2 linked regions of the Homo sapiens genome follow. The gene in region 2 interacts genetically with the main gene of each other region. Each region holds a gene or a part of one and is shown on either strand. Other genes may lie near its edges. The genes, in order: CDC25A and HCRT.

Evidence for each region.
Region 1: changes in HCRT (region 2) and CDC25A together harm fitness more than expected from each alone (negative genetic interaction), as found in Homo sapiens cells (one large-scale study listed by BioGRID).

The regions. Positions count from the first base shown.
Region 1 is NC_000003.12:48,174,770-48,178,584, forward strand, and holds part of CDC25A (M-phase inducer phosphatase 1), read right to left. Parts: intron 3,220-3,815; coding exon 3,085-3,219; intron 2,674-3,084; coding exon 2,602-2,673; intron 1-2,601. UniProt on the Homo sapiens protein: Tyrosine protein phosphatase which functions as a dosage-dependent inducer of mitotic progression. Directly dephosphorylates CDK1 and stimulates its kinase activity. Also dephosphorylates CDK2 in complex with cyclin-E, in vitro.
Region 2 is NC_000017.11:42,183,286-42,186,925, forward strand, and holds HCRT (hypocretin neuropeptide precursor precursor), read right to left. Parts: upstream 2,168-3,640; 5' UTR 2,081-2,167; coding exon 2,060-2,080; intron 1,244-2,059; coding exon 869-1,243; 3' UTR 775-868; downstream 1-774. UniProt on the Homo sapiens protein: Neuropeptides that play a significant role in the regulation of food intake and sleep-wakefulness, possibly by coordinating the complex behavioral and physiologic responses of these complementary homeostatic functions.

The sequences.
Region 1 (3,815 bases), on a different chromosome or scaffold from region 2:
TTTTGGCTTGCCTATCTTCCCCTCCATTTTATTACTTGCACCTTGCTTAATTAAGCAGGTCAACGGGTTTAAATACCCCACTTAAATCCAGAAAAGATGCACAGTAGCCAGGTTATAATAAAAATGGGGGCATCTTTGGTTAAGGTATAGTTAAGATGGTAAATTTGGAGGGAGTGGGGATGGGCAGAGTAGCAAATGCCTTTCAAAATTGTGTTCAAAGTCTTTTTTTCTACTTGGTCTTTTAAAGACTAATTTCCCAGGCTGGGCGCGGTGGCTCACGCCTGTAATCCCAACACTGTGGGATCACTTGAGGTCACAAGTTCAATAACAGCCTGGCCAACATGAAGAAACCCCATCTCTATTAAAAATACAAAAAAATTAGCCAGGTGTGGTGGTGCGTGCCTTTAATCCCAGCTACCCAGGAGGCTGAGGCACGAGAATCACTTGAAACCAGGAGGTGGTGGTTGCAGTGAGCTAAGATTTGCACCACTGCACTCCAGCCTGGGTGACAGAGCAAGACTCTGTCTCAATAAATAAATAAATAAATAAAGACAAATTTTCCAGAGCCCAAGGGAAGCCAATCTGACCAGTGGTAGCAAGAGTCAGCTCTCTAAACGCATCTCAGCCTATTCTCGACTCCATGTGTCTTGGCCTGGCTTTTCCTTCTGCACAGAATGTCCTTTCACATCTCAGTAAACCATTCATTTTCAAGTTGATGCTAACATTTCAATGTCACTTCTTTGAAATCTTCCTGATAGTCCCCAGTAGAATGGATCACTCCCACATCTGCTCCCATAGAGACCGGGGATTTTCTTCCTCTTTTGTGTGAAGTTTATTTTCCATTACAGCTCCCAGCAATGGTTAGTTTGTAATAACCATTTGTGGAAGACATTTCCCCACTATTAAGAGCTTACAAGCCCATGCTTATGACTCTAAAATCAAATCTATAAAACTAACAGCCACTTCCAAAGTGTTCTCACATTTTATGTAATTTTATGCCTATCAAAATGACCTGGTAAATTTACTCATAACATTTGTACTGCGTTAACATATTTTCTCAAAAGCTATGCACATGAATGTACTATAATCCATAAGTGATCTCAAAACTGTAGCTTGGCTGGGCACGGTGGCTCATGCCTGTAATCCCAGCACTTTGGGAGGCAGGTGGATGGATCACCTGAGGTCAAGAGTTCGAGACCAGCCTGGCCAACATAGTGAAACCTCGTCTCTACTAAAAATACCAAAAAAATTAGCCGGGAGTGGTGGCGTAAGCCTGTAGTCCCAGCTACTCAGAAGGCTGAGCCAGAAGAAGCACTTGAACCCAGGAGGCAGAGGTTGCAGCAAGTCAAGACTACACCACTGCACTGCACCCCAGCCTGGGCAACAGAGGGAGACTCTGTCTCAAAAACAAAACAAAACAAACAAACAAAAAAACTGTAGCTCATTTGTTCTGTAATTATAGTTCAGGTTATTGAGAATTAAAAAATATGAACTTATCAATTTAGATGTGTACCTAAGGGTGTATATCTCTGAACATACAGGTGTATATATCTGTATAGGCACATTCTTGCTTCTAACTTTGAAAGTATCCCTATGATGAAAACACGAATCTATAGCATGTGTATGTGTGTGTATATATATGTGATTTTGAATATATATACACACATACACTATAGATTCTGTATCTACATATACTATGCTTTCTGTTTGAAAGTATCCCTGATGGAAACACAAATCTATACTGTGTATGTGTGTGTGTGAGTATATATATATATATATATATATATATAAAATATATATTATATATAATTTTTAAAATCGAAAATATCTACCTGAAAATACCCAGCCTCAGGTAGGTATTTTCAATGAAAAACAAAACAAAACAAAACAAACAAACAAAACAGCAACAAAAAACATCCAGCCAGGCACAGTGGCTCATGCCTGTAATCCCAGCACTTTGGGAGGTCGAGGTGGGCAGATCACCTGAGGTCAGGAGATCGAGACTAGCCTGGCCAACATAATGTAACCCCGTCTCTACTGAAAATACAAAGATTAGCTGGGTGTGGTGGCAGGCACCTGTAATCCCAGCTACTCGGGAGGCTGAGGCAGGAGAATCACTTGAACCTGGGAGGCAGAGGTTGCAGTGAGCCAAGATTGTGCCACTGCACTCTAGAATGGGCAACAAGAGCGAGACTCCGTCTCAAAAAAAAAAACAAAAAACACAGAAACAAAAAAAATCCTGTGAGTTACTGTTGCTTGTCTAATTTTATGCTAGGTTCTGTGGAATATAAATGAGAATAACCTAAAAAAAGTAAAGTATTCAGGCTAAAGGCTTCAGATAGGCTTTTTTCAAACTGACTAGATGGTAAAAGCTAGGAATGACCATGGTCCCTCCTAACCCACACTCCTTATACATCAGGAGACATGCAGAGAGATATCATGACTAAAGGTCATAATTTGTAGGTAGCCAAAGTGAGGCCTAAAACCCAGATCCCCAAATCCTATCATGCATTTCAATCTTTGGCTATACTCAACTAAGGACTACTCTGTCCAGTGCCCCAATCACGCAGGGCTTCCTCCAGACACACTAGAACAACTCACAAGGTTTGTAGTTCTCATGACGAGAGGAGCTGTCCAGAGGCTTGCCATGCACGAGGGGGTCTCCTCCTCATTCTAAAGAAACAGAAAAACTGATTTTAAAAAGAGCCTGTAGAGACTAACATTTGTTTAAGTGCTTTAGGTGTGTTTCTCCCTGAACAATACCAGATAGGCCTGGATAGGAAGTATCCTTAATGTACCATCCTATACCGTTCTGATTTCATGTTTCTTGCATATAGATTGTTAGTTAGCTCCTTCAGGGTAAGAAGGATCATGTGTCTTCTTTTGATGCCCCCATCCCCCAATCCAAAGGATTTAATAAGGCTGGTAGCCCTATTATTAAATGAATTATCACCAAATGAACAAAAATATCAGCTAAGCAAGCCCCGGGGAACTGCTGTTGCTGTTCTTTTTCACATCACATGCCTTCTCCAGAGGTAATTAATTAGTAGAACAAATAGGAACACACACACACACACACGGTACCTTCAGATTCTCTCCATCGAGAAGGTCCACGAAGCCATCATCCTCATCAGACAAAGTGGCTGTCACAGGTGACTGGGGTGTAAAAAGAGGAATGAAATTCCCTGGTTCACTGCTATCTCTTTCATTTGAGGAAAGCTGTAAGACAAAATTCATGGATTAATAATGAGAGCTCTGATCCACTTTCATTTCCTTGAATGGGTCACTAGTTTTTATGATGAAAACATACTATGTTATACTTGTTATACAAAGCAAAATTTTAGCCATTACTGATTATATGAAAATGTATCCCAAGATTATAAATGATTTGATGACCACACACAGCCCTGAGTAGTCAGTAGCCTTTACAGAGAACTCTTGCCAGAAGCAATTCACCTTATAATGGGTACTAGAGATAGCCTCTTGTGAAGAACAAGGTTTCTTTTATTAGAAGGTTGCATCAGTGAACACCGATCAGCATTGAGGACTGTGACAGTATGAGAATCTGCTGAAATGAGTTAGGGCAAGCAGATGCAAATCTCTATAAAGACCATAAAATGGCCTAGAGAATGCACTTATATATAACTCCAGTTCTGACAGGGGGGAATAAAGGGTAACTTCCTTCTATAAAATCTATCCTCGTTCTTTAGACTTGGGATTTAAATGCTCAGTTTTTAAACGAGGAATTACTGTGTGCCAGATACTACGATATAATCTTTATACATATAATCCAATAGAAGCCTCACAATACACTA
Region 2 (3,640 bases):
CACCCTATACCCCATGATGCAGCCATTCTGGATGACTCATTGTTGAAGTTCAAATTCCCTGCCTTTTCAGCAGGATTGACTCCCACCCCTTCCTAGCTGGATTCTGCTGCTCTATGCAGCTTGCCTGCCTTCCTTCCTTCCTTCCTTCCTTCCTTCCTTCCTTCCTTCCTTCCTTTCTTTCCTTTCTTTCTTTTCTTTTTTCTTTTTCTTTCTTTTTTTTTTTTTTTTGACAGTGCCTCCTTCTGTTGCCCAGGCTGGAGTGCAGTGGCCCAATTATGGCTCAAACTCAAACTCCTGGGCTCAAGCAATCCTCTCGCCCACCATACCCCGCTAATTAAAAAAACTTTTTGGAGAGATGTCTCACTCACTATGTTGCCTAGGCTCGTCTCGAACTCCTTGCTTCAAGGGATCCTCCTGCTTTGGCCTCCCAAAGTGCTGGGATTACAGGCGTGAGCACCGCGCCCGACCGCTGCAACCTTTCTTGCTTTCCTTCCCCTTCCGCGTCTCTGGGTAAAGTCCCCGCTACAGAATGCCTAGCAGAGCATCGTAGGAGTCCCGCATGGCCCGATCCAAGCATGCACCTGTGCAGTTCTCTCTGTGCCCCAGGGCCTTGCACTGGGAACTCCCCAACCAAGAGTGTTTCCGATTCAACCACGCAAAAGCTAAGGCTGGTGCCCGACAGCCGGGCTTCCAGGCCCAGCTGTCCTCCGCAAGACGCTTTGCCACCCCGGATGGGCAGGACGCGACCGCACAGGAACAGAGACCAGTCACACGAATGGAGACTCGTCTTTATTGCCTTTTTTCTGGGGGCTGACGCTGGGTGGGCAGAGGGCAGAGGCCTGGGCCAGGACAGGGCCCGAAGAACGACTCAGATCCCGGACTGTCCTCCGGGCGCGACGGAGGCGGCGGCCGGGGCGGAACAGCGGCGCCCGAGGCAGGGGCGCGGCGCTGGCTCTGCGCCTGCGCGGCGGCCCATGGTCAGGATGCCCGCGGCGTGGTTGCCGCTGGCCTGCAGGAGGCGCTGCAGCCGACCCTGGAGGCCCGGGGGCCCGGACCTCCGCTTGCCCAGCGTGAGGATGCCGGCCGCGTGATTGCCCGCGCCGTGCAGCAGCTCGTAGAGGCGGCAAGAGCAAGTCTTTTGACGACAGCAGTCGGGCAGGGGCTGTGCAGCCGCCCCGGACGACAACAGCGCGGGCGGCAGCAGCAGCAGCAGCAGCAGTAGCGTCACGGCGGCCCAGGAGACCTAGGGAGACGGAGACAGGGCGCTGGGGGGGTCTTCCCACGGCGCCCGCCACCAGCTCCCACGCCCAGGACCTGCCCCTCTGGCTCCGCGCCCCCTCCAAGCCTGCACTCCTTTCTGGCTGTCACTTAGTTCTCCTTGCTTTGCGCCCTTGCTGGTATCGGCCTACTTTCCCTGCTCCTCCTTCAAGACCCAGCAGAGCATCTCCCCCAGGAAGCCTTTTGAGACCCCCTGGGCAGAGTGAATCCCCCTTTTCTCTGGAGACTTAGGCCACTGTGCCACCACTAGGGCACTTGCCACTCCACCTGAAAACAGGAGTGTCTGTCTGCAGCAGAAGTTGTAAACTTGGGAAAAACCCGGGCCCTACTGAGTCCCCCCAACTTCCTCTCCACAGCAGGGAAACACATGGAAATCAGGAACTAGCAAGACTCCAGAATGCTCTCTCATCTGCCTGCCCCCTTGCAGGAGTGACTGAACTCCGTTGCTTTGAACCAGTTTCCTGCCCTTTCAGAGGGCACAGCTCCCTTACCTGTAAACTGGGTATACTAGAAATAATTTCTACTCTGCAAGGCTGTTGGGAGGATGACAAGAGATGACAGGTGCAAACGGAGCACCTGACACATAGAGCTCAGCAAACACAGGCTCTTAGCAAAACAGCACCCAACCCAATGTGAGCCAAGGCAGGTGCTCCTGCCTCAGAGCACACCCAGGAAAAGACCAAGAGTGGAGACACCTTTGGCCTTTCTTCCAGCCCTCTGAGCAAGCACTCTTTTTGCTTCTCTGGGATGGTGAGTCACCCCTCCATCCCTGGATCTTTACCTTTGTGGAAGGAAGGTTCATGGTGTCTGGCGCTCAGGGTGGGGTAGCCGGGAAAGGAGATGTCTGTGGTGGTTCAAAAAGCCAGGAACCTTGAGGCTGTCAATTGTGACCCACTCCCAGGGGTCTGGGGTTTATAGTGCTCTGAGGTGGCGGGGAATTGACAGGCACTTGCGTCCACACCCAGGCCAGACAAAGGCAAGTCTAAGATTAGCCTGCTGCAGGGGGGCCGTCTCCAGGCTGGGCCCAAGGAATGGCCGCTGCGGCGTTCAGAGGCCAGGGTTGGATCACTGTGCCCCTGATCACCCCCTTGTCTGTCTATCTGCTCCCTGGAGATGGGGCGGTCTCCGGGCACTAATGAGGCCACCTTGCACCCAGGAATCTGGGAGCACAAAAGAGGCGCTGGCCTGGGACAATATGGAGGGAGGCAGCTGCTAATTAGGGGCGGGAGAGAGGCAGACGCGAGACCCCACATTATGTGTGTGGGGGGTGGAGCAGCCAGCAGCAGTCCTCTCCCTCCCCTGCTTCTTGTCGCTGCTCCTGGGGACTGTCAGGCTCCAGGACCTTCTTCCTTCATGGAAAGGCTCCTTAGCTGCCCCCTCCCCCTAGCTTTTTTTCTCCCTTCTGCCCTTTCCACTAGCCTCTGAGATGGAAAACCTTGAAAACTCAGCCTAGACAGTGGGAGGTAAGAAGCCAAAACCAAGCCCAATTTCTCTTTCTTTCTTTTCTGTGTGTGTGTGTGTGACTAAATTTTGGTCTTGTTGCTCAGGCTGGAGTGCAGTGGTATGGTCATCTTGGCTCACTGCAACCTCCGCCTTGGGTTCAAGCGATTCTCCTGCCTCAACCTCCTGAATAGCTCCTGAATAGAATTACAGGCACACGCCACCACAACCAGCTAATTTTTGTATTTTTAATAGAGACAGGGTTTCACCATGTTAGCCAGGGTGGTCTCAAACTCCTGACCTCAAGTGATCCACCCACCTCAGTCTCCAAAAGTGTTGGGATTACAGGCGTGGGCCACTGCACCAGGCCCCCCCGCTTTTTTTTTCTTCCTTCCTTCTTTCCTTCTTCCTTCCTTCCTGCATTTCTTTCTTTCTTTCTCTCTCTCACTCTCTCCCTCTTTCTTTCTTTCTTCTTCTTCTTCTTTTTTTTTTTTTTGAGACGGAGTTTCACTCTTGTTGCCCAGGCTGGAGTGCAATGGCGCAATCTCAGCTCACTGCAACCTCCACCTCCAGGGTTCAAGCAATTCTCCTGCCTCTGCCTTCTGAGTAGCTGGGATTACAGGCATGCGCCACCATGCCTGGCTAATTTTGTATTTTTAGTAGAGACAGGGTTTCTCCATGTTGGTCAGGCTGGTCTGGAACTCCTGACCTCAGGTGATCCGCCTGCCTCAGCCACCCAAAGTGCTGGGATTACAGGCATGAGCCACCATGCCTGGCCTTCTCTCTTTCTTCATTTTCTTTTCTTTTTCTTTTCTTTCTTTTTTTTTTTTTTTTTTGAGACAGTCTCACTCTGTCGCCCAGGCTGGAGTGCAGTGGCGCGATCTCGGCTCACTGCAAGCTCCGCCTCCCGGGTTCACGCCAT